Linked DNA regions of Homo sapiens: region 1 is linked to region 2. The links come from fine-mapping of genetic effects on plasma protein levels. A gene starts in region 2. The other region holds a variant in brackets. All regions are shown on one strand. Distances are from middle to middle.

Evidence for each region. A credible set is the group of variants that fine-mapping cannot tell apart. PIP is the posterior inclusion probability: the model's chance that the variant is causal. The UK Biobank Pharma Proteomics Project read protein levels with antibody pairs (Olink). The fine-mapping took linkage between variants from a reference panel, not from the people measured, so its PIPs are less certain.
Region 1: its variant is the best candidate, but not a certain one, in a credible set for the plasma level of the FGFR2 protein (UK Biobank, PIP 0.53).

The regions. Positions count from the first base shown.
Region 1 is chr10:121,565,754-121,579,656 of GRCh38, reverse strand. All of the region lies in intron 2 of FGFR2 (fibroblast growth factor receptor 2), which reads left to right. Among named protein-coding and RNA genes, the nearest start is that of FGFR2, 26 kb to the left of the region's middle. RefSeq lists a silencer at 1-42. The variant A/G (reference allele first, on the strand shown) is at 13,633.
Region 2 is chr10:121,596,864-121,610,632 of GRCh38, reverse strand. It overlaps FGFR2 (fibroblast growth factor receptor 2), which reads left to right and starts at 12,189. Exons shown (of 18, transcript NM_000141.5): 1 at 12,189-12,671. RefSeq lists enhancers at 1-85, 12,983-13,718, 13,719-13,769 and a silencer at 1,686-1,925.

The DNA of each region.
Region 1 (13,903 bases), 31 kb after region 2:
TGTGCCCCACATGCAAATATCAGCTACTCTCAAATGTGTTGGATGGATGAATAGTAGAAGGTATTTTAAGAAGCCACAGGCCTCTTTGTAAATTAAACAGGCATCATACATGGGTGTTGATAATGATGAATCTCACAAAATCTTCAGATGTTTAGTCTCTGGGAACATTCCAGGAATCCTCATTTAGGTAACTTATATGTGATGAGACCTATTTGTTCACTTGAAAGAAAACCTGTTTTGAAGTCAGAGGAATGCGAATAGAGGCTCTCACATGGTTGGAAAAAGCAATCTGCAGGCCAGTTACGCCCCGTAAACAGGAACCCAGGACTGCCCTCCTGGCCAGGGCTGAGTTGCAGGATGGGGACCCCCCACTACCTCCAACCGCCCGCCAGGATGAGGAGTGCTTGCTCTCAGACGTGCCCCTCACTTTAAATATACAGAGGCCTTCCTAGGCAGCCTTTGATTGTGTCCTTGTGGTGACCTTGCCCTGCAGCAGGCAGCACTGGAGATGTTTTTCTCTTCTCTAAAGCATGACTCTGAGGCTCAGCGGTGTGAGGCTGTCCAAGCTGACACGTTCACTACTGGCAGAGGCGGGTCTCAAAGTCTCATCCTTGGACACTGGAGCTGAACTTCTTGTAGTGTGGGTCTTGGACCAGCAGCATCAGGCCTCACCTGTGGGAAATAAAGAATGTCAGCCCGCACCTGCAGGCCTACTGACCCAGAATCTTTTTTTGTTTTTTCCTTTTGAGACAGACTTTTGCTCTTGTTGTCCAGGCTGGAGTGCAATGGCACAATCTTGGCTCACTGCAACCTCTGCCTCCGAAGTTCAAGTGATTCTCTTGCCTCAGCCTCCCGAGTAGCTGGGATTATAGGCTCCTGCCACCAGACCTGGCTAATTTTTGCATTTTTAGTAGAGACAGGGTTTCACTGTGTTGGCCAGGCTGTTCTCTACCTCCTGGCCTCAAGTGACCCACCTGTCTTGGCCTCCCAAAGTGCTGGGATTACAGGCGTAAGCCACAGCGCCCAGCTGACCCAGCATCTTTGGAAGTGGGAGCAAGGAAGCTGTCTTAAACTGACCACGTGGTTTTACGCACAGTAAAGTCTGAGAAACATTGCATTGATCCCTACTCCAGTCCCTCTCCGTACACCTTTTGGGTGGAGTGGGCTGGGGACGCAGACTGTCTTTGGCTGTGCATGTCCTAGAGGCTGAACAGGACGAGATGGGAGCAGTGCAGTGTCTTAATGGGAATCGGGATTTTCACGGAGGAGCTGTTGGAACTGGGCTGAATAGGAGCCTGCCAGGCAGCAGAGCTGGGTGGGCTTGTAGGTAGAGGGAACAGTGCCCATGTGGACAGGTAAGCCAGAGTGTCAGAGAGAGGGATGTGGGGCTTGGAGCAACCAAGCCTCAATGCGCCATGATGTTCTTTGGGTTTTATTCTCTCTGACTTTGGAGTGGTCTGTGCCTTTTTAAAAGAGTAGAGATCATGTGCTTTTCAGAAGATTCCTCTGGGGGTCTGCGGTGGCTACAAGAGGCGCACCATGGGTGATGGGTTAGGCGCATTGCAGAGGTCTTGTGGAGGACTGGAGGAGACCTGTGGGATGCAGTTTTGCCTGTACTTTCTTTCAGAGCTAAGCTTTCTATCAGGGATAGGCCTAATAGGTGAAGGGGTGTGGGGACTGATCAGAGGAAGGGCCAGAGGAAAAGAGGGGCTTCAGGGCCGACTTGGAGCTTGGGCGGCAGTTCAGTGGTGTGACTCCCTTCATCGTGTAAGAGAAGAGGCTGGTGGAGGAGGAGGAGGTTGAAGGTCACTTGCTTGTTTTGGATACGACCTCTGTAGACATCCAGGTTATGTATTTCCTCCCCCCGGGCAGGTGGAAATATGAACCTACAAGCAGGGACTTGAGTGGCATCTGCGGGGAGGAGGTGGGAAAAGCCACACGTGCCCAGGAGACTGGAATGCAGGGAAAGGACCAGAAGAGCCAGAGGTAGAATTCTGGGTATATCCATGGATACAGGAGGGGTGGCAGGGAAGGAGAAATTTCCTAGAAAGGCGAGAAGTCCTCCTTGACATGTTCCTGTCCATAAGAACACATACGCACATGTACGCACCAGCAGGAAGCAGAATGCTAACCGAAGATAATTAACCCCCAATTCTGTGTTAGGGATTGAGAAATAGACCAGGAGCCCTGCCCCCTCCTCTCTCATTTCCTGACCTTCCACACTGAGAAGACCTGGCTAGGCAGCCTTGCTTTTTTTCCTGTTTAGCGGAGGAGTGAGGATTTCAGCCGGAAGGTCTTTCTGATGGCAGATGTGTAAGTGCCAGACATTGTGCTGGGTGCCTTCTGTGTCCTATCTCATTTATTATTGTTCCTGCTCCGAGGACTTGCCTCAAGGTCATACGATTTGTAAGTGGCATAGTCTCGGTGTCAGTGACAGGTCTGTTTGGTGTCTCTCTCTCTCTCTCTCTCTCTCTCTCTATATATATATATATATATATTTTTTTTTTTTTTTTTTTTTTTTTGAGATGGAGTCTCGCTCTGTCATCCAGGCTGGAGCACAGTGGCGTGATCTTGGCTCACTGCAACTTCCGCCTCCCAGGTTCAAGCGATTCTCCTGCCTCAGCCTCCCGAGTAGCTGGGACTATAGGCGCCTGCCACCATGCCCAGCTAACTTTTGTATTTTTAATAGAGATGGGGTCTCCCCATGTTGGCCAGGCTGGTCTCGAACTCCTGACCTTGAATGATCCACCTGCCTCAGCTTCCCAAAGTTCTGGGATTACAGGCATGAGCCACCATGCCCGGCCTTGGTCTGTACCTTTAACACCCCCAGCCTTTTCTGAAGAGTCACCAGAGAAGGGACAAAAATGAGGCCATAGCCTTACTGCTAAGGGACCATGAGAGGCTTGGGGTATAGCTGTCTGTTGAGACAGGTGCTTTACTACTTTGTAAGATGAAGAGAGCTGCCTCTGGCTGAGCACTGTCATTAGGACTCAGGGAATGGAAGTGTTTTGAGACCAGAGGGTTCAGTTTCAGGACTGGAGATCACAATGCATTCATTTTACAGAGTGACAACTCTGTAGGGCCACTCTTCACCCTAAGATTGGGTCATTAAAGGCCAGGCACATCCTATTCACTCCTTCACCTCCTTGTGAGCCCCCCACATGCCTTTTGATGAAAGGGTTTTCCCCAGAACAGTGTGTCCCAAGAAGCCCTGAAGGGCTGGAGATGTACCAGCTTTCTCTGCTATGTCCAGCAAGTGTATTTTCAGAAGGTAGGAGGCTCGGGCTGGGCTGGCCAGGCAGCCAGGCACACAGACTCCTCATTGTACATCCAAGCCGGGGCGTGCAGGACTTCAACATAGCTTGTAACGTAAGTATCTATTTCCTGGGCGCTACATGATCTAATGGCCTGTCGCTTTGGGAAATGCTTTCTGAACAAAAGACTCGATTTATTTATTTATTTATTTTTTGAGACGGAGTTTCGCTCTTGTTGCCCAGGTTGGAGGGCAGTGGCGTGATCTCGGCTCACGGCAACCTCCACCGCCCAGGTTCAAGCGATTCTCCTGCCTCACCCTCCTTAGTAGCTGGGATTACAGGCGTGTGCCACCACGCCCGGCTAATTTTGTATTTTTAGTAGAGACGGGGTTTCTCCATGTTGGTCAGGCTGGTCTTGAACTCTCCTGACCTCAGGTGATCCACCCTCCTTGGCCTCCCAAAGTGCTGGGATTACAGATGTGAGCCACTGCGCCCGGCCTTTTATTTTTTTAAATTATTATTATTTTTATTTATTTATTTATTTTTTTGAGATGAAGTCTCGCTCTGTCACCCGGCTGGAGTGCAGTGGCACGATCTCGGCTCACTGCAACCTCTGCCTCCCTGGTTTAAGCGATTCTCCTGCCTCAGCCTCCCGAGTAGCTGGGATTACAGGGGTGCACCACCATGCCTGGCTTAATTTTTGTATTTTTAGTAGAGATGGGGTTTCACCATGTTGGCCAGGCTGCTCTTGAACTCCTGACCTCAGGTGATCCACCCGCCTCGGCCTGCCAAAGTGCTGGGATTACAGGCATGAGCCACCGCACTCGGCCAGGACTCAATTTTGAAGTTCTTATGCAAGCAAAGCTGCCCATATCTAGGAGTTTATGCACACAGTACTGATTCAATACCTGCGTCTTAGTGGTCCATCAGGAATTTTTCACTCATGAAATATGACTTTAATACACGTGTTGGGACCAGAGAGAAAACCTTCCCTCTGTGCATCTTTTTTTGGAGAACACTGTCATGAACAGCCGAAAACATCAGATCAAAAGCAAGAGGGATACTGACAAAACAGGGAGTGCGGATTTCCACTGTGGGTGGGGACATTGGGAGACACGGTGACTCACTCCTCAGTAAGTGCATTCTTAGGCTCTTTACTCTGTGTGCATTTTTATTTTCTCATGGGCAACAATATAATTTCTTTCAAACATGAAGAGCCATCCAGCATGTTTCTCAAAGGCAGACTTAAATGATATGAGGGGTGTGCCTAAATATATAATTTTTAATGGTTACCATATTGGAAACATTAGCCATGATCCCATCTGATGACTAGGAACATGAGCCAGTCTGGAGTTTCTGGAGAAATCCAGCTACCGCTGCAGAGGCGGCTGTTAGCTGTTGTTACCGGCATCCTTGTTAGCGACCAGGGAGGTTTCAGTCCCGACTTGTGTCTACCAGACACCCTGACAACTGGTTAGAAAGAGAGGACTGCACCCTTTCATCCTGCGTACTTATCTGTTGTTTGTTGCTTTGACTTCTTTTTGTTCTCCGTTTTTATGTTGGCAGTATTTCTCGAGGTAGAGAACTTTCACCTTTATATTGTGCGGAGTATTTGTCCCTTCCTCGCCCCCTTAAAGAACACGTAGTACCTATGCCTTATAAGGTCTCTGTTTGATGTGAGGAATTTGGTCTTCTTGCAAGTCGGCTCTTGCAGAGGGGAGGCTTTGAGGATGTCTGGGCTGCAGCAGGCTGTCTTCGTTGCTGTGTACACAGCCCTCATGGCAGGGCATGCAAAGGTGGTTGGTTCTGACTTCAATGGCGGGACTCCATTGCCTTTATTTTTTAATTTAATTATTATTATTATTATTATTTTTGAGATGGAGTTTAGTTCTGTCACCCAGGCTGGAGTGCAGTGGTGCGATCTGGGCTCACTGCAACCCCCGCCTCCCGGATTCAAGCAATTCTCCTGCCTCAGCTTCCCGTGTAGCTGGGACTACAGGCACACACCACCATGCCCATCTAATTTTTGTGTTTTTAGTAGAGACGGGGTTTCGTCTTGTTGGCCAGGCCGGTCTCGAACTCCTGACCTCAAGTGATCCACCTGCCTGGGCCTCCCAAAGTGCTGGTATTACAGACATGAGCCACCGCACCTGGCCTCCATTGCCTTTATTTCTTTCTGCTGATAAGTTCTGATGCCAGTGATACCCAGATTGTGCCATAGGAAAGAGGGGGCTGGGCTCTTCCAGAAACCCTATCTTGCAGAAATCTCTCTTCTGTTCCTACGGACAGAGAATTGGGTATTGACCAGTGAGGACTTCTTACTGGGACTGGGCGTGGCCACTACAGGACATCTTCCAGACTAAGAGGGCCAGTTGGGGGTTACTGGACCAGGGAGGACAGTGGCGGCCACTTACTTGCCATGTGCTTTGTGTGCAGTGACTATGTAGCGACATTTGCAGCCGGACTGTGTTTCTCCTGTAGAGACACTGGCAGCCCTACAGCCCTACAGCCGTGACATTTACTCTGTACAAGGTGGCAGGAGGTGTGGGAGGGCACCGGGAACCGAAGGCCATTTTACTACCCTTCCCGCAGCGCTCCTGTTACAGTGCTTGTGGGAGTCCCAGCTGTGCCTCCAGGTACAAACGGGTTTCTTCCTGCAACCCACAACCCTGACAGGACATGCCTCCCGGGTGTGCTCCTAACCTGCCTCTTCTCTCTGCCCCTCCCTCTTTCTCCTCTCCCCTTCCCCTCTCTTTCTTCCTCTTGCCTTCCTCTTCTTTCCTCTCCCTCCCTCTGTTTCTCTCCCTTCCTTTTCCTTGTCTCCGTCTCTCCTCTCCTTTTTCCCCCTCTCCCTCTCTTTCATCCTTCTGTCTCTTCCAGAGGAGTCTGTTCAGGGATTTCTTTCTCTCTTTCTTCTTCCTGGAGGAATGTGTTTAGGGATTGGACACCTCTGACTTTGGAGGAGGGAGAAACCTCAGTGGGATGGGTTCCAGGACGACCCCACCGCATCCTTGGAACTAGGATGATCTAGACGTTGGAAAAGACACCATCCCTGGGAAACCCCAGAAAAGGCTTAATTTGTGAAAAGTAATGGAGGGAGCTGTGCCGTTGGTAGAAACTGCTTTTTTCTTCCTTAACAGTTTAAATCTGTCGTCCATTCTCCGTGAAGTGATTGGACGGGGCAAGACTCAGGTTTCCCATCTGTTCTCTGTTTGCATTTGGGCGCCATTTCAAAAACCACACGGGAAAAGTTTATAGGCAAACATTATAAAAAGTGACAGTCTGAAGTGCTGCTATCGCTGGTTTGGCAACGTAAAGTGTTACCTGAAATAGCTTACCGTTTCCAAACCCTTTTGCTGTTTCAACTGTCTCAAGACAACCCTCCCGCTGAGATGGGTGAGAAGTCCAGCTGGATGTGTGCAGTGAAGTCACATAAGTCACAGCCTTTTTTGACTTTTACAAGATTTCCCCCTCCTGGGGCTATCTTCACACACAGCGAGGATTTTTTTCTCTCTGTTTACTTATAGAGAGGTAAATTCATGCAGCTTGTGGCTAGTGGCACTCTGTGTGATGTCAAATGGTCTGCTGAGGGGCTCGGAGAGTCAGGCAGCCCCTGCCTCAGTTTCTCTCTCTCCCCAGTCAGAGGTCCTATGAGCTCCCAAGGAATAACAGGATGGTTTTCTTAGGGAAGGAAGGCCAGGTCAAGGCAGGAATTACTCACAGCTCATGTGCAGATGCCTGTTGTTATTCATACTATTTATTTATTTGTGTTTTTTTTTTGTTTGAGACAGTTTCACTCATGTCGCCCAGGCTGGAGTGCAATGGCATGGTCTCGGCTCACTGCAACCTCCACCTTCTGGGTTAAACGATTCTCCTCTGCCTCAGCCTCCCAAATAGCTGGGATTACAGGCACATGCCACCACGCCCAGCTAATTTTTTATATTTAATAGAGATGGGTTTCACCATGTTGGTGAGGCTGGTCTCGAACTTCTGATCTCAGGTGATCCACTCGCTTTGGTCTCCCAAAGTGCTGAAATTACAGGCATGAGCCACTGTGCCTGGGCTACTTATTTATTTTTGGAGACAGGTTCTCGTCTCGCTGTGTCACCCAGGCAGGAATGCAGTGGCGCGATCATAGCTCAGTGCAGCCTCTGGGGCTCAAGCGATCTTCCTACCTCAGCCCCCTGTGTAGCTGGGACTACAGGTGTTTATCATCATTCCCGGCTTTTTTTTTTTTTTTTTTTCATTTTTTGTGGAGAGAGGATCTTACTATGTTCCCTAGGCTGGTCTTGAACTCCTGACCTCAAGTGATTCTCCCACCTCGACCTCCCAAAGTGCTGGGATTGTAGGCATGACCTGCTGTGCCTGGCCCATTTATTTTTTGATTAGCTGTACAAGTACCTGTCTCTCTCATTTTTAAAGTATCAAAACAGTCAATTTTTTTTTTTATTTTTTTTTTGAGATGGAGTTTTGCTCTTGTTGCCCCGGCTGGAGTGCAATGGCGTGAGCTCAGCTCACCACAACCTCCAGCTTCTGGGTTCAAGCGATTCTCCTGCCTCAGCCTCCCGAGTAGCTGGGACTATAGGCATGCGCCACCATGCCCAGCTAATTTTGCATTCTCAGTAGAGACGGGGTTTCTCCATGTTGGCCAGGCTGGTCTCGAACTCCTGACCTCAGGTGATCCGCCCGCTTCGGCCTCCCAAAGTGCTGGGATTACAAGCACGAGCCACCGCGCCCGGCCAGTCGTTTTTGTTTGTTTGTTTGTTTGTTTGTTTGTTTTTAAAGAAGCTGCTTGTGGCCAGGTGCGGTGGCTACCACCTGTAATCCTAGCACTTTGGGAGGCGGAGGCAGGTGGATTGCCTGAGCTGAGGAGTTTGAGACTGGGCTGGGCAACGTGGTAAAACCCTGTCTCTACTAAAATACAACAACAACAACAAAATTCCCAGGCGTGATGGCATGCACCTGTAATCCCATTACTCCAGAGGCTGAGGCAGGAGAATCACTTGAACCCAGGAGGTGGAGCTTGCAGTGAGCCGAGATCGCACCACTGCACTCCAGCCTGGGAGAGAGCGAGACTCCGTCTCAAAAAAAAAAAAAAAAAAAAAAAAGGCCAGGCACGGTGGCTCACGCCTGTAATCCCAGCACTTTGGGAGGCTGAGGTGGGCGTATCACGAGGTGAGGAGATCAAGATCATCCTGGCCAACATGGTGAAACCCACCCCGTCTCTACTAAAAAAAATACCAAAAATTAGCCAGGTGTGGTGGCAGGCTCCTGTAGTCCCAGCTACTCAGGAGGCTGAGGCAGGTGAATAGCGTGAACCCGGGAGGTGGAGCTTGCAGTGAGCCAAGATCGCGCCACTGCACTCCAGCCTGGGCGACAAAGCCAGACTCCGTCTCAAAAAAAAAAAGAAAAAAAAGGCTGCTTGCTAACACGCTGCTGGTACTTCCCAAGTATTTGAAACTTCTGGGAGAAAATTCACGTGGATGCAACTGAGCTTTATGCAGCAGGGCTGCAGTAGTGTGGCCACGGCAGTAGAAACGAGTGTTGAGCTGTGTCCCAGGAAGGAGACTTGGTGCCTTGTTTGTTTACCAGTTTTAGGAAACAGTGACAAAGATTGGCCAATACTACTGTGAAGCTTGCTTGCTTCTTTTCGACTTTTAATTCATATTGTGAAAAATACATGGAAACATATTCTCTGTCTGTGGAAGCCTCTGAAAGAGCATTTGTGCATAGCAAGGCGGCTTCTGGAACCTTCTCCCCATTGCGTTTTGGCAGGAGATGAGGGAGATGTTGGGCTGTGCACCCCTGGTGGATTCGCACAGGAAAGGTGAAAAGTATGCCACAGCAATGGGAAAAAGTAAATCCAGGAAGTGCTCACATGACTATAAAAGGAGTTATGTACATTTCCTGGGGAATTCTTTGCTCTTTCACAGAGCAGGCTGTGCAGCCTGGTGGAGTCAGGGAGAGGTTGTCCATCCATGGGGGGTGACCAGAGTTAGGGAGGCCCCTTTGCACATGCAGGCACAGGGGATTCTCTGATTGTCCTGGCTCCGCGCAGCCTGGGGCCAGGTCAGTACAACTGTGGGGATGAACATGGAGGGCTCAGGGAGTGCATGTTTGCAGGGAGTGGGCAGCGGGTCAGGTCACCTGCAGCATTCAAACCCAGAAGAGAAGCTAAGCCCTGTGGACGGCAAATGGACCCAAGGACACGGGCAGGGACAGAGCTGCTTCCACTGAGCCAGCTGTTAGGTGCTTGTGTTCTTGGCCCCCTGGCCGGGGTTGTCTTTGATATGTGTCGTGTGTGCTGGGCCCTGCAGGCTGGGCTTGGGGGGCCACTGGGTGGCCTGGGAGGCTACCAGTGTGGCATTTGGCCCCTCCCCAGCGTATGGCCCCACCCCATCCCTGCCTCTCTTCTTACTTACATCCTCCTCTTTTTATTCTCCCCAACCTCTTTCTCTCTTGTGTGTTTATTCATGCATTCTCCCTAACATGTGCTTGCAGAGTCTTCTGGGATACCCAGGGGTATTACTGGCATGTTTACTAAAGGCACCGCTGATCCCCAAAATGGGCCCTTTGTGAAATGACCACTGAAGGGGTGGAGGGAGGAGTCCTTGCTTTCTCAGTTTACCAAGACAGCAGTTACTGGTTTGAGACTTTGAAGACAGGATGGCTTGATTTTTATGGATAAACATCATTATCTCATTGGTGTATTTTAGGGGGTGATATTTTACTATCCTTGAAGCTTGGATATCTAGATGACAGTTTTGATCTGGTTTTACTGGGATCAAAAGCAGTTTTAGTACGTCAAGTCATCTTAACTGTCCATTGAGATGGGACTCCTGTAAAATCACTTTGTATCTGGAGATAGCAATCCAAGTGTTCTGGCTGGGCGCAGTGGCTCACGCCTATAATCCCAGCACTTTGGGAGGCCGAGGCGGGCAGATCACGAGGTCAGGAGTTCAAGACCAGCATGGCCAATATGGTAAACGCTGTCTCTCATAAAAATACAAAAAAGTTAGCTGGGTGTGGTGGTGCACGCCTGTAATCCCAACTACTTGGGAGGCTGAGGCAGGAGAATCACTTGAACCTGGGAGGCGGAGGTTGCGGTGAGCCGAGATCGTGCCACTGGATTCCAGCCTGGGTGACAGAGCAAGACTCTGTCTCAAAAAAAAAAAAAAGAAAAGAAAAGAAAAGAAAAGAAAAAGAAACCCAGATGTTCTGTGATTATCCTCTGAAAATCGTGGTGCTTAAAAAATCACGGCAAGCATCTTCCGCCTTGAAGAGTAACAGTAATAGTGACAGTCATTAGCCCGACATGTTGTAGTTGATGATCAGGTTCATCTTCGTTGGCTCATTGGAATCTTACCAATAATAAACCAGTATTTGGGTACTCTTACCCTGCAACAGATGGGGAACACCAGGCCAAAAGGTTAAGCAGGAATGGAGAGGCGTGGGAACTCAGGGCTTCATCCTCTTCTCGTCCAGGGCAGCACCCTTCACCAGGCATCTCCCATGTCCAGCTCCAAATAAGACACAGGTCCTCGCTGTCCCCTGTACTTCCTTCTAGAACAGCACGTGGTAGTCCAGCAGCTCAGATACCCCCAGTTTCAGCAAGATTTTGGGGTTTACTGATTTTAGGTGAAGGAAAGGATTCTCAATGAAAACACTTTCATTTAAAAACAGGAAATCATACATCATAACTCCTCCTTTGCCGGGAGAGAGATTTTTTTCTGCATCACAATTGCAAATGCCTTGCTTATCTTTTTTTTTTCTTTTTTTCCCCCTAATGGAGTCTTAGAGCATTCCTCTGCGTGACATAGGGACATGGTTGCACCTTATCTGAGGGTCAGGATGGAGCAGATTGGTGTGTGGGTCCCAGGTGCCTTCCCTGTGAGGGAGGGAAGCTTTGCTGCTTCTGCTCAGCGGCTGCCCTGGTGATCAATTCTGGCTAAGAGGAAAGTACATTCCATAACATTTCTGGTGACTTGCTGATCATGTGATGTTGTCATAATAGACATTGATCATTTTATGACCCAGACTGATCCAATGTAAATTCATTCTAACATGGTGGGTGCTGTTTCAGCAATGAGTTGTTGGAGACCTGGGACTCAAAGGACATCTGGTCCTTGCCTTAGCCAGCTGTCAAAGGGGTTGGACCAATAGCGTTTGGGGCCCCTTCAGCTCTCATGTTGAGTGAATCTGTGACTCTAGGATGTTGGGAGTGGGAGATGGGCCAAGATTTGGGACCAGACTGAATCCCTGCCGTCTTCTCCTCCTTCTCATATTTCTCTTCCTTTCTTTTTTCTGTTTGGTCTCCATAGTTTAAAGTATTTCTATTAGTCACTCAATTCAGCCGCATTTTGACTTAACCAGCCTTGAGAGACCTGCTCTAAGAGCCTTCAAACTAAGTTCCCAACATCTTTTAAACTTCGCTTTGTCCTTCACTTCTCAGCTCAAATGCCTGTTCTTTGGAGAAGTCTCTCTGATTGTCTTATACAACAGGGATTGAAACACTTTTTGCAAAGGCAAGACTGCAAATATTGTAGGGCTTGCAGGCCACAGGGTTTCTGTTGCAATGACTGAACTCTGCCCTTGTAACACACAAAAGCAGCGCCAGACAATAAGGAATGGGCATGGCCGTGTTCTAATAAAGCTTTGTTTACAAAAACAAGCTGCGGCTGGCTTGGCCCGCGGGCCATCATCCGCCACCTCCTGCCAAGGGACCAGCCCTCCTCTGCCACTGCTGTGTGTGCCCGTACCTTGCCATGTCCTTCTTCCTAATGCTTAAGCAAGAACACTGTATTTTTTGTAGATTTTGTATCTATCGTCTGTCACCCCCACCATAATGGACGCTCCACAAGTGCAGGGTCTTTATCTTGTCTCCTCTTGCTGCGGAGCTTCCAGAATAGGCTTGTTGTATAGTAGACATGCAGTAAATAATTACTGAGTGAGAAAACAAATGTTAGAAACATAACCTGCCCGTCAGCTGGGCTTTCCTTGCTTTGGGGTGCATTTGTCCATGTTACATTTAGCTTCTATTTTCCTCCTTTTGTTGTGATTCTCTCTTTGTGTTCACGTGCTAGTTGGCATCTGGGGCTTGGCATGCATGCCTTTGGTGATGCCCCCTTGAGAAGCCCCGGGCCTCCTGTGTGGCTGTTGATGGTGGTGGTGAGGGGGATTTCTTGTCCCCAATGCATGTGGCCCTTGCTCCTTTCACAGTGGGACTGAAACACAGATTGACTTGATTTCAGTCTCCTGTGGGAGATTTGTTCTTCTGAGGGGTGTCTAGGCAAAACAGTTGCCTTTGATCCTGCCCTGATTTGGTGCTGTCTCAGTGCTGGGAAGCTTTGCATTTTCTAGGCCTGGAACTCTGGGTCCCATTCACACTTCTCACTGGAGGGATGAAAGCCTCCTTCTTGGGCCCTCGTGGCCATCCCAGCTGGCCGCTCCAGCTGTTGTTATTAATAAATGCCAGTGGTGTCCTCTCAACTCCAGTGGAGAGGTTGTGTGGGTTGGATCCTTGTGGGTCCAATCCCGTGCTGCATATCTGGGAACTGTGACCTTGTTTGACATGGCCATGTGTCTGCCAAGCAGGATGGGGTCGGTGGCGGGAAGCACAGAGAACCATGAGACCCACGCCTTTTCTCTAGGGTCTTGGTGTCTCCGTGGGGAGATGGGATGCATTCATGAGAATATGGTGCATCCCATGAGCTGGCAAAGTGGGCAGGTGTATGGTGGAGGGGGAGGGAGCCAGTGCTCTTCCGCCCAGGGGGACTGATGCAAGGTGACTCCCATCACGGAGGACCCTGCTTGATTTGGGTCTTGGAGGGTGGATGACAGGGAAGAGAGGGAGGAAGGACTGTCCCTACAGAAGAAGCCTGGGACATGTGTGGTGGGTGTTGGTGAGCAGGGTGGGACTCAGCTTTGTCGTGTGGAGTCGGGGGCACACAGCACCCAGCGGCTTCATTTCAGGACCCCTGTAAGTGCAACGGAGACTGCCTTGCAGCTGTCTGGGCATTTTGCTCTTTTTGTTTTTGGTGTTAAGGCCTCTAGGCTTTTATCATTTTGGGAAAACAGCAGGTCTCAGCTCACCCAGCACAGAATTAGGTCTCTAAACCGGCAAAGTACTGATCTGAACATGAGAGCTCATGAAAACTCTGGATGGCAAAAAATCTTGTAGAGGGATCCCTTAGTTTTCCTTGAGTTTGAGACATTTCATTTTAAGAAGCTTGGCCTTGGGGCAACAGACCAAGTCTAGCACAAATAATAAAGAGTGTATGTGTGTGTGGCGCACAGTCACGTTTCACGTACAAATGTGTAAAACTCGGCATTCTTACAAATAAAACATACCACAATAACAGATTTTTGCAGGTATTAC[A/G]GTGCAAGCACGCTTTGGCAATCAATTTAAACATTTTCTTGTGGAATATTCTTCCATGCTATGGTTTGGTTTGTTTCTAAAGCCCCATAGGATGTGGAAACTAAGTCAGGACAGATTTTCTGGGGGTATCCTCTGGTTGCTCTTCCAGATACTTCCTGACTTCCTGGGGCTTGGGGAGAGGTGGATGCCTGCTGGGGCCATTTGCAGAGCAAGAACAGCTTCTCCTGGGAATAAGCAGGCCTCCACTGACCTTTGTTGGACGTTCTCTCCT
Region 2 (13,769 bases):
CCCTGGACAGCCTAAGCTGCTACTGAAATCAATACCATTATGGGTGAATTTTGAAGATGATTACCGCTAATATTCACAGCCTACAAATAAGGCCACAGAAGCTCATAAAAGCCGAGTAACCTACCCCAGGTCACACAGCAAAGAGAAGTAGCAAGTAATAAGGTCAGGGGTAGGATAGGGTTAGACAGAGCTGCAGAGGGAGGTCTGGATGCCTCTGGTCTGGAAATACTAGTACCAGCTGACAAGTATTGATCATTCACCATGCACTCAGCACTTCACCTGAAGTATTCCATTCAATCTGCGCAGATTGTGTGAAGCGGGTATTAGCATGACTTCATTTTACAGATGAGAACGTGGTGAGGAGGGGCAGATGTAAGGCCCAGAGCAGGCAGCTGGACTCCAGGTCCCATGATCTCAGCCACTATAGGACAGCAGAGGGTGCAGCCTGCTGTCCACAGGCCCACTAGAAAAGGAGTCAACATCTGAAAACTGGGACAATTGTCATCTGGATGGGACAGCCAACTTCTCTGGGAAGATCAGGAGAATCAGCCCCTTTAGCCTCTGTTTCCATTCATCAGCTGAAGTCACTACCCCATCACCGTCACGGGGACGCTGGCAGCATAAGCGATAGCACAGGCTCCAGGGTCAGCCCTCCCTCCCGACTGTGTAACCTTGGATGAGCTCTCAGTGTTTCCATAGCACGATTTATAAAATGGGGGTCACAGTAGTGCTACCTCACAGGGTGCTTGTGATTGAAGTGTGATCACCCATTAAAGGCCATAATCCCAGTTGCATGGAACATGGTATGCACCCAATAAACGTCAGCCTCCAAGCACCCACTCTGTGCTAAGAGGGCCGTTGCCATGGTTCCTGAAAATGTGGAACCTTCAAAGCTTCCACTGGCCTGATGAAAGGGCAGGACAGGGGTCCCCACCTCTGGGCAGGGTGACTGGCAGGGGAGAGACCAGAGGCGGAGGCTGCCCCAAATCTGGCAGGTACCTCTCCAGGGCAGCTGTGGTGAGACTAGGAAGGAAGCAGGTGTGGTGGCTTTCAAGAGAGGACAGCTCCAAGGGGTGCAGTAGCGCAGGCCTGTAATCCCAGCACTTTAGGAAACTGAGGCGGGTGCATCACGAGGTCAGGACTTCGAGGCCAGCCTGGCCAAGATGGTGAAACCCCCGTTTCTACTAAAAATACAAAAATTAGCCAAGCATGGTGGCACATGCCTATAATCCCAGCTACTCTGGAGGCTGAGGCAGGAGAATCGCTTGAACCCGGGAGGTAGAGGTTAAAAAAAAGAGAGAGAGAGAGAGGACAGCCCACAGCTAGGACTGCCGGGCCTTGGTGGGAGAGGAGCGCCAGAGAACACCAGGGCCAGAAGGCCCAACAGGGGGCCGGAGGTAGGAGCTGGTTTCCCGGCGAGGGTGCAAAGGTGGTTCTCCGCCTTGTTGATCCACAGGCTGGAAACGTGGGGCCGCCTCCCGGGGGCGAATCCACGCAGCGAATGGAGAATTAGCCTGAGGTAGCCGCACGCCAGGCCCAGGCAGAGGCCGCTGCAGCACCACGTCCCTGCAAGGTCCCGCGCCCCAGCCGTCGGGGTAACAGACATTTCGTCCAGCTGTGCTTGGGCAAGCACCTGGGCTCCTGATTCGCCTCGACCTGGGTCGCTCATCATCTGCACAGCCGAAACGACTTCAGGGCTGGGCTCGGCGCTGGCGGGGCTGCCCCTCCTCCCTGCCCGGCCGCCCTCTACCTTGATGCCAGCCCCGTCACCCACGCCCCGGGCGGCGCTCGCCCCCGCTTTGCGCGCGCGGTGCTCGCGGCCACACGGGGGCGCTGGCGCCCGATGCGCTCCTCCCTGCGCAGAACCCGGAGAACAAAGGGCGCCCCGGGACCTCGGCCTCCCTCACCTGGAGCCACCTGCTTCCCGGGCGCTGCCCCAGCGCCAGGCCAGCATCCGGCCTCCGCGAAGGAGTTAATTTTTGCTCAGCGCTGCTCTTAGAAATCTGTTAAAGAAATCGCTCCCCACTTGATGGTCTTTCTCCCCAGCTTGGGGACACAATACGAGAGCTCTGGGACTCTAAAAGGGTTACTAGGTTTGTGGTTTTACGATGTGTGGGGCTCTGTATTCTCCACTCCCTCCCCGAGTTTACCAGGATCCTGGCAGCATCATTTTTCTCCCCTTTGGTTTATGAAAGTGAACTTCTTCTTTTTTTTTTTTTTTTTTGAGACAGTCTCACTCTGTCAGCCAGGCTGGAGTGCAGTGGCGCAATCTCAGCACACTGCAACCTCCGTCTCCCGGGCTCAAGCAGTTCTGCCTCAGCCTCCCGAGTAACTGGGATTACAGACGTGTGCCACGACGCCCGGCTAATTCTTGTATTTAAGTAGAGCCGGGGTGTCACCATGTTGGCCAGGCTGGTCTCGAACTCCTGACCTCAGGTAATCCGCCCGCCTTGGCTTCTCAAAGTGCTGGGATTACAGGCGTGAGCCACCGTGCCTGGCGAAAGTGAACTTCTTTTCACATTTGGAAGAAGTAGACACACCCTCGGGAAAGAGTGTAGCAAAGGCAGAAATCAAGAGAAAAGAGAAAGAAACGCATCGTGGAAATGAGGTAATTGCAGGGAAAGGTAACTTCCTCACACAGCTCAATCAGCTTTGTCCTAAACTGGCTTCTATTCCCCACCTTCTAAAGAGACCGTGCTCACTGTGTACACAAACCTATGTACATGTGCCTCTTTGCACTTATGCTTTAATTAGGAAATGCTGGAGGAGGCTGAGTTGCAGTCATCAATCAACAAGCATCTATTAAGAGCCTGTAAGGTATAAACACAGCCCCATAAACTGCTCCCACTAGCCAGGTAGTGCCAGGTCCTGGGAATCTAGAGATGGGAGATGCAGCCCCGGCCTTTCTGAGTATTAGCATTTAGTGGTCCCCAATTAACCCCTTTCCACCAAAATTGTTGTCCAAGGTCAGTTTCTGCTAGGCTTTCTTCCATGGACAGGCTATCTTGGTTCAGTAAAGCCTTTCCTCCCTCTGGGCTTGAGGCTGAAAGCACACAGTTGTGAATCTCTGAGGATTTGAGGGAGCAGGAATCCTCGAAGGGAGGAATTTAGGGCCCATAGAAACTCCCACTGAGACCAGGAGCTGCTTCCAGGGGGCCCCAGGATCAGAAGGTGATGGTGCAGACTAAAATCTTTTTTTTTTTTTTTTGAGACGGAGTCTTGTTCTGTGTCCCAGGCTGGAGTGCAGTGTCGCGATCTTGGCTCACTGCAGCCCCCACCTCCTCAGTTCAAGCGATTCTTCCGCCTCAGCCTCCCGAGTAGCTGGGATTACAGGCACATGCCACCATGCACAGCTAATTTTTGTATTTTTTAGTAGAGACCGGGTTTCACCATGTTGGCCAGGCTGATCTCAGACTCCTGACTTCAAGTGATCCGCCCTCCTCAGCCTCCCAGAGTGCTGGGATTACAGGCGTGTGCCACCATGCCCGGCTAAAATCGTTTTCATTGTCAACAGTAAGACCTGTCCCGTGTATCTCCTGCACCGTTCTCCATCTAAGGAGTAGAATTCTTGTCCCTACCTCCACCCTGGTAAGGCAAGATGCCCATTTAGGGCATGGGGAGCAGTCCAGGGGTGATGAGCGGGGGGACCTGGAGAGGGAGAGCAAGAGCAGTTCCTGGGGACTCCTCTGACTAAGGAGGTCTTCTTGGAGGAGGAAGCGGAAAGCAGGGTGTGCTCTCTAGCACAGCCCAATACATCGTCTGCCACGTTGAAAATACCCTATAATACTGCACTCTCCAATGTAGTGGCCTGGCCCCATGTGACTGTTGAGCACTTGAATTGTGGCTGGTGCTACTGAGGAGCTGAAGTCTTATTTAATTTTAATTGATTTAACTTTAAATAATCATGTTGGCTGGTGGTTAACGTTATCAGACAGCATAGCTTCAGGCAGCGATAAGGGTGTGGGTGGGGTGGGAGCAGACGGGATATTGTTGCTAATCTCATCCTCATCTACCCCACCCTGGCTAAAACCACCTGTATAGTTTCTGTCCAGTGAGCTGGGAAACCTCGTTGTGGTGGAAGTGGTCGTGATGTGTGGAGGGTGGGGGTGATTGAAAGGCACGGAGTCACAGCCAAGAAATGACATGCCATAAATTGCCCTTAAATAGCAATGGGCCAGGGATTAGAGGACTTTTCCGGTAGATACTTGTTACCAGTAGGAACAGCACGGTTCCTAGACTATGGTTTCAGAATACTTTGGAGAGGATGTTCACTTCCTGTAACACCAGGGTGGCCTTCAGTGATGGGTGAACCACAAGTTTTCAGCTCCAGGTGGAGGCGGGGAATGTTCAGAGATAGGCCGGAGATCATAGATAAATTTATTTTTAAGATAGAAGGGGGACACTTCAGTTATGCAAAAGAAGGTGAGGCCAAGGTTAGGGGTGGGATGAGGCTTGTTCAGTAACTTGCCTAGACTTGCATAGTTAGCCCTTGACCACGTTGGGATAAAAACTCAGGTCTTGGGGGCCCTGACTCAGTGCTGTTTCTATGGCACCACATTACTTGTCAAAAATACCTTGAGACCTTGGACATTGTAGATGTTACATGCAGCTGGCTTGGCCAACCAGCTAATTGACCTACCAGTTTTCCTTCATAGATTCAGATTGGCAGAAGCCAAAGGTAGGAATGTGTTTGTGGCCACAGGGGTGGCACAAGGGACAGTACTGGGGTCAGAGTCCATAATGCCCTCCACTAGAGTTCCCCCAGGTTTTAATTGTGAAATTGTTTAAACATTAAGAAAGTTGGGTGAATAGTGCAATAAGTAATGTATACTCTCAACTGTATAGTGTCAAGAGTTAACATTTTGCATATTTGCTTTATCTGTGTGTGTTTGTCCTTTTTTTTCCTGAGCCACTTGAAAGTCAGTTGTAAACATCAAGCCATTTAATCCTTTAAACTTTGGCATGGATCTCATAAGAATACAGAAAATTTCCTACAAAGCCAAGCTGTCATAATCTTATGTAAGTGAATTAACAACAATCTCTAATATTCAATCTCTAATATTAATATGATCTCCTATCTGGACAATATTAAAATTTTCCCAATTATCCCCCCCCCCACTTTTATAGTGATTTCTGCTTTTGTTTAATTTTTTTAAAAACACAGAATGCATTCAAGTTTCCCAAATTGCCCTTCCGTTGCATTTTGGGCAACAAACCCGATTACTCATTTGTAAACTGCAAATGTGTCGCAGAGTTTTAAGTCTTAATTTCTCAAATGCAAGTCTTAGTAATTCTTAAAAATTTTTCACTTCCACTTGTTATTGACAATAGTCGTTCTGTGAACCACAAATTGCTCCTTTATTCCTCCCCTATTTTGAAGACTATGCAGATTCAGCAGATGAAACTGTAGGTGTGTGAAAGAGGTGTCTAACAAGCGTATGCACCTAAACTTGAAGGCTCTTTGAAATATTAACAACAATAATAACCCTTACAGAAATCCTTCTTGGAGCACTTGAAGGAGGAGAAGTGAGCTGAACTCATGGTGAGTGGGTAATTGTTTTCTGGAAATAGTAACAGTTTCAGAGGCAATGAATGCTACTTGAAATATCTCCATTCTGGCCGGGCGCGGTGCCTCATGCCTGTAATCCCAGCACTTTGGGAGGCCAAGGTGGTTGGATCACCAGAGGCCAGGAGTTCAAGACCAGCCTGGCCAACATGGTGAAACCCTGTCTCTACTAAAAATACAAAAATTAGCCACGTGTGGTGGCGGGAACCTGTAGTCGCAGCTACTTGGGAGGCTGAGGCAGGAGAATCGCTTGAACCTGGAAGGTGGAGGTTGCAGTCAGCTGAGATTGCGCCACTGCACTCCAGCCTGGGCAACACCTGGGCAAAAGAATGAGACTCTGTCTCAAAAAAAAAAAAAAAGAAAGAAAGAAAGAAAGATGTGGAATCCCCTAGAAAGAGCCAATTGCCTGGCATTGGATGGGTGAGACTCACCTGCCATGGTGGACTTGTACTAGTGGCCATTGTAACCCCAGCTGAGTCAGGAACACAGACTTTTCTGGGTTTTGCTGCCATTAACCAGAGGGGTGACTTTGAGCCCATCATCCCTCTGTGTGCCCTGCTTTCTTCCCCTGTAAAATCCAGGGGTCATACTTGATGCGCTGTCATAGGTTTGACATGCACTTCTTCACCTTTAGGCCTGGTCTCCTTCGGAAGAACAACCTGTGCCGTTCAAGTCACTCAGAAATTCAAGAAATGGTTAGAGCAGGGCAGCCTTTATTCAGATGTCCCTAGTGGTTTTCAAGAAGCTCTTTCCTTGGGAACAGAGGTGTCTTTGCTATCTCTTAGCTATTTAATAGGGTCAAAGAGGATTCAATGAACTGGGATGTGACAAGCACTTAGACATTTTTATTTGTATGGTCCTCATGGTATTGAGAAACTCTTTGGCACATGGGAAGGTTACGTGTTTTCTATGATTATTCTTAGCCATATACAGTGGTTTGTTCACCCTTATATGTGGTTCTCCTAGTAGGAAAAGTGTCTTCTGCCTGGCACTGTCCTTGCCTCCCCCTGGACCGCTGCTGGGGAGCAGTGGGCACTGATGGGCATTGTGACGCCTCCTGTTTGGATGTTTTTTCCTACGCTTACACACTATGAGAAAGTTTAATTTCTAAATTAGGCACAGTAAAGTATTAATAATAGGCCAGGCACGGCGGCTCATGCCTGTAATCCCAGCACTTTGGGAGGCTGAGGCGGGTGGATCAGTCAAGGTCAGGAGTTTGAGACCAGCCTGGCCAACATGGTGAAACCCCGTCTCTGCTAAAAATACAAAAATTAGCCGGGCGTGGTGGCAGGCACCTGTAATCCCAGGTACTTGGGGGGCTGAGACAGGAAAATCTCTTGAACCCGGGAGGTGGAGGTTGCAGTGAGCCGAGATGGCGCCACTGCACTTCAGCCTGGGTGACAGGGCGAGACTCTGTCTCAAAAAAAAAAAAAAAAGTATTAATAATAATAAACTAATTAAAAAAGGACAGTTATAATAAAAGTTATATGAATATGGTCTCTCAATTAAAATATCTTATTGTACTATGCTCACCTATTTTCAGACTGCAGCTGAACTCAGGTAACTGAGGGTAACTGAAACCATGGCAAAGGAAACTGCATATCAGGGTGGACTACTGTGTATGGATAGTAATCCTCAAGAGACTTGCTCGTGTGTCAAAGTTTCTCCAAACCATGAGGACCACCTGAATAAAAATGTCTAAGCGAGGCTGGGCATGGTGGCTCACGCCTGTAATCTCAGTGCTTTGGGAGGCTAAGGAGGGAGGATCACTTGAGGCCAGGAGTTTGAGACCAGCCTGGGCAACATAATGAGACCCCTGTCTCTACAAAAAATACAAAAATTAGCTGGGCATGGTGGTGCATGCCTATAGTCCCAGCTACTCAGGAGGCTGAGGTGGGAAGCTTGCGTGAGCTCAGGAGTTGGAGGCTGCAGTGAGCTGTGATTGTGCCACTGCCCTCCAGTCTGGGTGACAGAGAAAGATCCTGTCTCAAAAAACCGAACCAAACCAAAACAAAAACAATTAAGTGCCGGGTGCGGTGGCTCACGCCTGTAATCCCAGCACTTTGGGAGGCAGGTGGATCACTTGGTGAAATGCCATCTCTACTAAAAATATAAAAAAATTAGCCGGGCGTGGTGGCAGGCGCTTGTAGTCCCAGCTACTTGGGAGGCTGAGGCAGGAGAATCACTTGAACCCAGGAGGCAGAGGTTGTAGTGAGCCAAGATCACGCTACTGCACTCTGGATGACAGAGCAAGACTCCATCTCAAAAAAAACCAAAAAACAAAAACAAAAACAAAGGCAAAAACAAAACAACCAAAAAAACCCGAACAAATAAAAAAACAAAAACAAAGAAAAACTAAGTGCTTGTCACGTCCTAACTCATTTCATCCTCTTAGTGATCCTATTAAAGATCTAGGAGAGGCCGGGTGCGGTGGCTCACGCCTGTAATCCCAGCACTTTGGGAGGCCGAGGCGGGTGGATCACGAGGTCAGCAGTTCAAGACCAGCTTGGCCAAGATGGTGAAACCCCATCTCTACTAAAAATACAAAAAATTAGCTGGGCGCGGTGGCAGGCACCTGTAGTCCCAGCTACTCAGGAGGCTGAGGAAGGAGAATCATTTGAACCCTGAGGGTGGAGGCTGCAGTGAGCCGAGATCGTGCCACTGCATTCCAGCCTGGGTGACAGAGTGAAACTCTGTCTCAAAAAAAAAAAAGAAAAAAAAAATCCAGGAAATAAGAACCATTATTTTCCCCATTTTACAGCTGAGAAAATGGAAAACTCAGATAACTCAAGCAACTGGCCTGAGGTAACACAGCGTTTGTTTGTTTGTTTGTTTGTTTTTTTTGAGACGGAGTTTCTCTCTTGTTACCCAGGCGGGAGTGCAATGGCACGATCTCGGCTCACCGCAACCTCTGCCTCCTAGGTTCAAGTGATTCTCCCGGCTCAGCCTCCTGAGTAGCTGAGATTACAGGCATGTACGACCATGCCCAGCTAATTTTGTATTTTTAGTAGAGACGGGGTTTCTCCATGTTGGTCAGGCTGGTCTTGAACTCCTGACCTCAGGTGATCCACTTGCCTCGGCCTCCCAAAGTGCTGGGATTACAGGTGTGAGCCACCATGCCAGGCCTTTTTTTGTTGTTTTTTGAGAGGGAATCTTGCTCTGTCACCCAGGCTGGAGTGCAGTGGGGCGATCTCAGCTCACTGCAACCTCAGCCTCCTGGGTTCAAGCGATTCACATGCCTTAGCTTCCAGAGTATGTGGGATTACAGGCATGCGCCACCACAAGCGGCCAATTTTTGTGTTTTTAGTGGAGACGGCATTTCACCATGTTGGTCAGCCTGGTCTCGACTTCCTGCCTTCAAGTGATCCGCCTGCCTCGGCCTCCCAAAGTGCTGGAATTACAGGCGTGAGCCACTGCGCCCGGCCACAGGTCACAAAGCTATTGAGTAAAGAAAGCTGCATCCAGCCTCTCACCTTAAGAAAGCCATTCCCCTTTGCCTCAAAGTGAGGCTATACTTCCAGAAGGACTTTGTCTCCGGGGAAGCCTTGGCTTTGGAATTCAGGCCCAGTTCTAAGTTTAAAATCATTGATGCTGTTCAGTAGTGGGATCAATGATTTTGCTTCACTTAAATGCCACAAGCTCCCTGAAGATGGGCTGGAGCTGTCACAGCATCCAGCCCCTCCCCTTACCCAGAAGTAAATACTCTTATCATAGTCCTCCGACTATTCTATATCCTTCCATTTGAGTGCTTCTTTTATGCCGAGGGCACTATTGAGATGTAGCTTAGAGAATGAAATTCCTGGTGTTGCAGGGAGCTCAGATCCACCCGGGAAGGTTCATGAGCACTTCATGTCAGCAGCCTTTATTTCATCTAACGTTTCCATAGAGTGAAGGAACAGCCACCCATTACAAAACAAATTATTAAAAGAAAAATTCCAAATCTTCAAAGGAGAGAGGCCCATGGTAGTGAGCGCTCCCACCCCCTTCTCCTTTCTCTTCCCATCACCAACGGGCTAGCAGCACAATTTGTTTCTTGAAACTTTTGGGGGCATCGGAGTTCTGGTGTCCTCATTTTTCTTCCTTCCCATTGATGTATCATTACTAGAGTGAAAAAAGAAGGGCGTCTCGAGGGCTTTTGAAAAAAAAAAAGGGTGACTACTCAAGACATTTTGTAAAGGGGGGAAAATTGCGAAGAAAAGAGACCTCAGTAGGGGGTGGAGGAACTGTGAATGTGTCCTTGTCTGGCGGTTCTTTCAGCTGAAACCTGGTGCTGGCGTTCGCAGTTCAGTTCAAACTGTCACCTTTAGTTCTTACTGGCTTTTCTGCCCTTGCCCCAGAACCTCAACAGATTGGGGCTTATTTACCTATTCACACTCCGCCGTGGAAGCTCATTAATAGGCTTTATTAGCAACACCATTCATGGGAGGCCATTGACGAAAGGGGTTCCAGCCACTTGAAGAGGGAAGAGAAAAGAAAAAACTGTAAAGAGATTATTTTCTCATTCAGAAGCCTCAGTGGTGTGAAGGTTTTCCTGGATGGTCTGAGGTCACTTGAAGACTAAATATGGGGACATAATTGATTTTTTAAAAATAATTCTAAACATACTTCCCCCCCCTCCTCAAAACTGAAGAGTTTCCTGTTGTGGTCTTGTGGGTTTCAGTCCCTTATATATGAGCCCTCTTTAGGGAATAAGGAGCTTTTGATAGATTGGTGTCTTTTCATTTCTATAAAAAATACATTCTGCAAACTGTGCCTGGACATGAAAGTAGGTGTTCTTATTTGTCATTTTCAGCGGAAAGCTTCCTTTCCATTCAACATGCATAAAGCTATTGATGAATGGGGGATAGGGACAGCGGCTTCCTGCACCATTAATTTATGTGAGAATGTGTTAACAGCATTTTCAATGGCTGATGGATGCGGTGTAGGATGGGAAAGGAACTGTCCTGAGACACTCGAGTTTCCCATTGGTGGGGAATATAAAGATGTAAGTGGCAACCTGCGAGCAGGCAGACACGTTCAGCTGCATCCCTTTTCTGAGAACTTGAAAACATACTGCTATCAGAACAACCCGTGTGGGAGTGAATGGCTAAGTGTCAACCTGGGCTGAGGTGTCCGTTAATGTATAGGCTCTGGGGCTAATCCAGGTTAGAGGACTTGACCAAAAACATACCCTCCCACCAAGCATATAGAGGGATAATTTTGCTTAAGAACCAGTTTTTATTTTGTTGCTATCAAATTTCCAAAATACAATGTTATAGCCTTTTGCCTGAGGCAGTTAAATGGATTTCTTACTTGTGTGGCTTTTAAATAACTTGCATAAACGTTTTCTGTGCTATATTTGTGAATAAAAATGATTTTCTAATCATGTAGCACCTTGAAAAATATTTTTGTAAATGTTATGAAGGGTGCAATGTTAGTGACACAGGTGCAAATATGTTTCTAAATCCAGGAAAAGTCTGTTTTCCAAGTCAGGTTTGTTCTCAATGCTTCATCTATCTTCAGGCCTCAAAAGGATTCTAAAGCATTTCTGGGTTTAGTGACCTTTTCTAAAGAAAAATAATTAAGGTTTTAATCTATATGGTCTTGAACTTAAGCACGGCTGCTCAGGAGCTGGATGAATAAGGAGGGAGAAAAAGCATATTTAAAATAAATTATTCCGAAGACACGGCTTAGTGAAAAGGTAAATGGACATAGGAACTTTAACCAGTTACAGCTTGGTGTGCAGTTGAAGAATCAGATTTTGCATTTATGATTTTTAATCTAAGATTCAGAGGGAGGAATTACTTTGTTCAAGGTCTATTTATGGTAGAGTTGTCTTTAGACTCCTTTGAATTTCTTTTTATTAATCCAAACATATATTATTAAACACTTTTTTTTTTTGATGCAATTTTGGCTTTTTCTGAGAGAGCCACATTCAAAGTCAGGCTGTCCTAGTAGCCAGCTGTGTGGTCCTAGGCAAATTACTTAACCTCTCTGATCCTGTTTCCTTATCAGAAACTGGGAATAGTACTCTGCAGGGTGGTTGGGCAGATGAAATAGAATCACCTATGTAGTGTGACCCTCCCATAGTAGGGCCTCCATTAATATTCAGTTTTTTCCTCTCATTTCTATTGTTTAGAAGGACAGAAACATGCAATGTCCTGCGAACATTTCCAAGTGGCTTCCTCTCCTCCAAAAGCTTCAGCTGCCTGGCAACCCTCCCCGCAGTATCAAGCAGGCGCATTTTAAAGTCTCTTTAGCGGGAGGGCAGGGTTAGAGCCTTCGGTCATTTGTTTTCTAACTTGACATAAAACAACGTAACGCAGTCGCTCAGCGAGCCGTTGGCCAGCCTCGCTCGCCCGGGGAGGAGGGAGGAGGTGGCGCGGGGCGCGGGACCAGGCCTTATTCGGAGGCTGTCGCTGCATCCCTACGGCCGCATCGCGGCCGAGCCCTCGCCTCCCGGGCCGGTGTCTCCGGCTGCTCGGAGGCGTCGGGAGCCGCGCGGGACTCGGGGCGGCCCGGGCGCGCGGCGCTGATTGGCAGAGAGGGCGCCGCCGTCCAGGAAACGGCTCGGGTTTCAGTGGGGGCGTGACCCGCCGCGAGGAGGCGGGGGCGGCGGCGGCGGCGCGGGCGGCGGCTGGAGGAGAGCGCGGTGGAGAGCCGAGCGGGCGGGCGGCGGGTGCGGAGCGGGCGAGGGAGCGCGCGCGGCCGCCACAAAGCTCGGGCGCCGCGGGGCTGCATGCGGCGTACCTGGCCCGGCGCGGCGACTGCTCTCCGGGCTGGCGGGGGCCGGCCGCGAGCCCCGGGGGCCCCGAGGCCGCAGCTTGCCTGCGCGCTCTGAGCCTTCGCAACTCGCGAGCAAAGTTTGGTGGAGGCAACGCCAAGCCTGAGTCCTTTCTTCCTCTCGTTCCCCAAATCCGAGGGCAGCCCGCGGGCGTCATGCCCGCGCTCCTCCGCAGCCTGGGGTACGCGTGAAGCCCGGGAGGCTTGGCGCCGGCGAAGACCCAAGGACCACTCTTCTGCGTTTGGAGTTGCTCCCCGCAACCCCGGGCTCGTCGCTTTCTCCATCCCGACCCACGCGGGGCGCGGGGACAACACAGGTCGCGGAGGAGCGTTGCCATTCAAGGTAATCGCCGCGCAAGACGCCTCGGGGAGCTTCGCCAGCCGGGGACGTGGGCGCCACGGGAGCCCGGGACGCCGGGTGCACCGTCCTCCGGGCGGGGGGCGCGGAAGGACTAGCATTGTGGAGGACGCTCCGTGTCCTCCCTCTGTGGCTGCATAGGTGATGGGGGAGGTGGGTGCGTGCTGACGGCCGGCGTTCTGGAAGTTCTGCCTCTGCTACCCCCATCCAGATGCTGACATCTGCTTCTGGCGTTGACGCCCCCCTCCCTGTCAAACCCTGGCGGGCGCATTCCCGCTGACTGGGCGCGTTTCTCCGACCCCAGAGCAGACGGGCGGAAGGTTCGCCTGCCCGTGGCACAGCCCCGCAGGCCGGTTCCCGGGGTCATCTCCGAGGTGCCCCATCCGTGTGTCCTGGGAACTTCCGTACCATCCAGGCCCTGCGGAGACCCCTTTTTCGGGAGGGGGCCGCTGGGGTGGGGCCGGTGACATCCCGTAGGGGTGGCGATGGCCAGGGGTGGCACTGCTGGGGAGGCGACGGCTCCGGTGCCTGGGCGCCCCTCGCCCGCAGCCGCCGTCGGCGCTGGAGGGAGCGCAGTGCGCCTGGGGCTAGGGGGCGAACTGGACCGACTTTTTCTAGTTCGCCTGCCTGCTCTGCCGCAGCGGCTGGGAGATGTCGAAAGCGCAGGCGAGTTCTAACTTGCGCGCTCATTTTTTTCGGCCACGGGGCCGCGCTGGGGAAAAAAGCCGAGGGCCCTGCGTGGCGCTGGCTCCGACCCTCGCGGACCACGGACCTGGCGCAGGAGGCCCGCTCGGGGACCACCAGCCTCCGTCGCTCTCCTCGCACCCCGCTCCCTTGCAGACCGTTCTCCAGACCCTCCTTCCTTTCTCCCAATTCAATAAAACCTACCCTTAAAGGCAAACCTGCTTTCAAACTCAGGGCACCCATTATGTGTTTGGTGTGAAACGCTATCAACATTTAAAACTCCATTGTCTCCCTGGTCCCAAATCCCTGTAAATCTTCCACCGGGCTCGACTCATTTTCATCTGAAAAGCCTGTTTAGTTTGAATAGAAAAGCAATCAGGCGCCCCTCTCTCTTTCCCT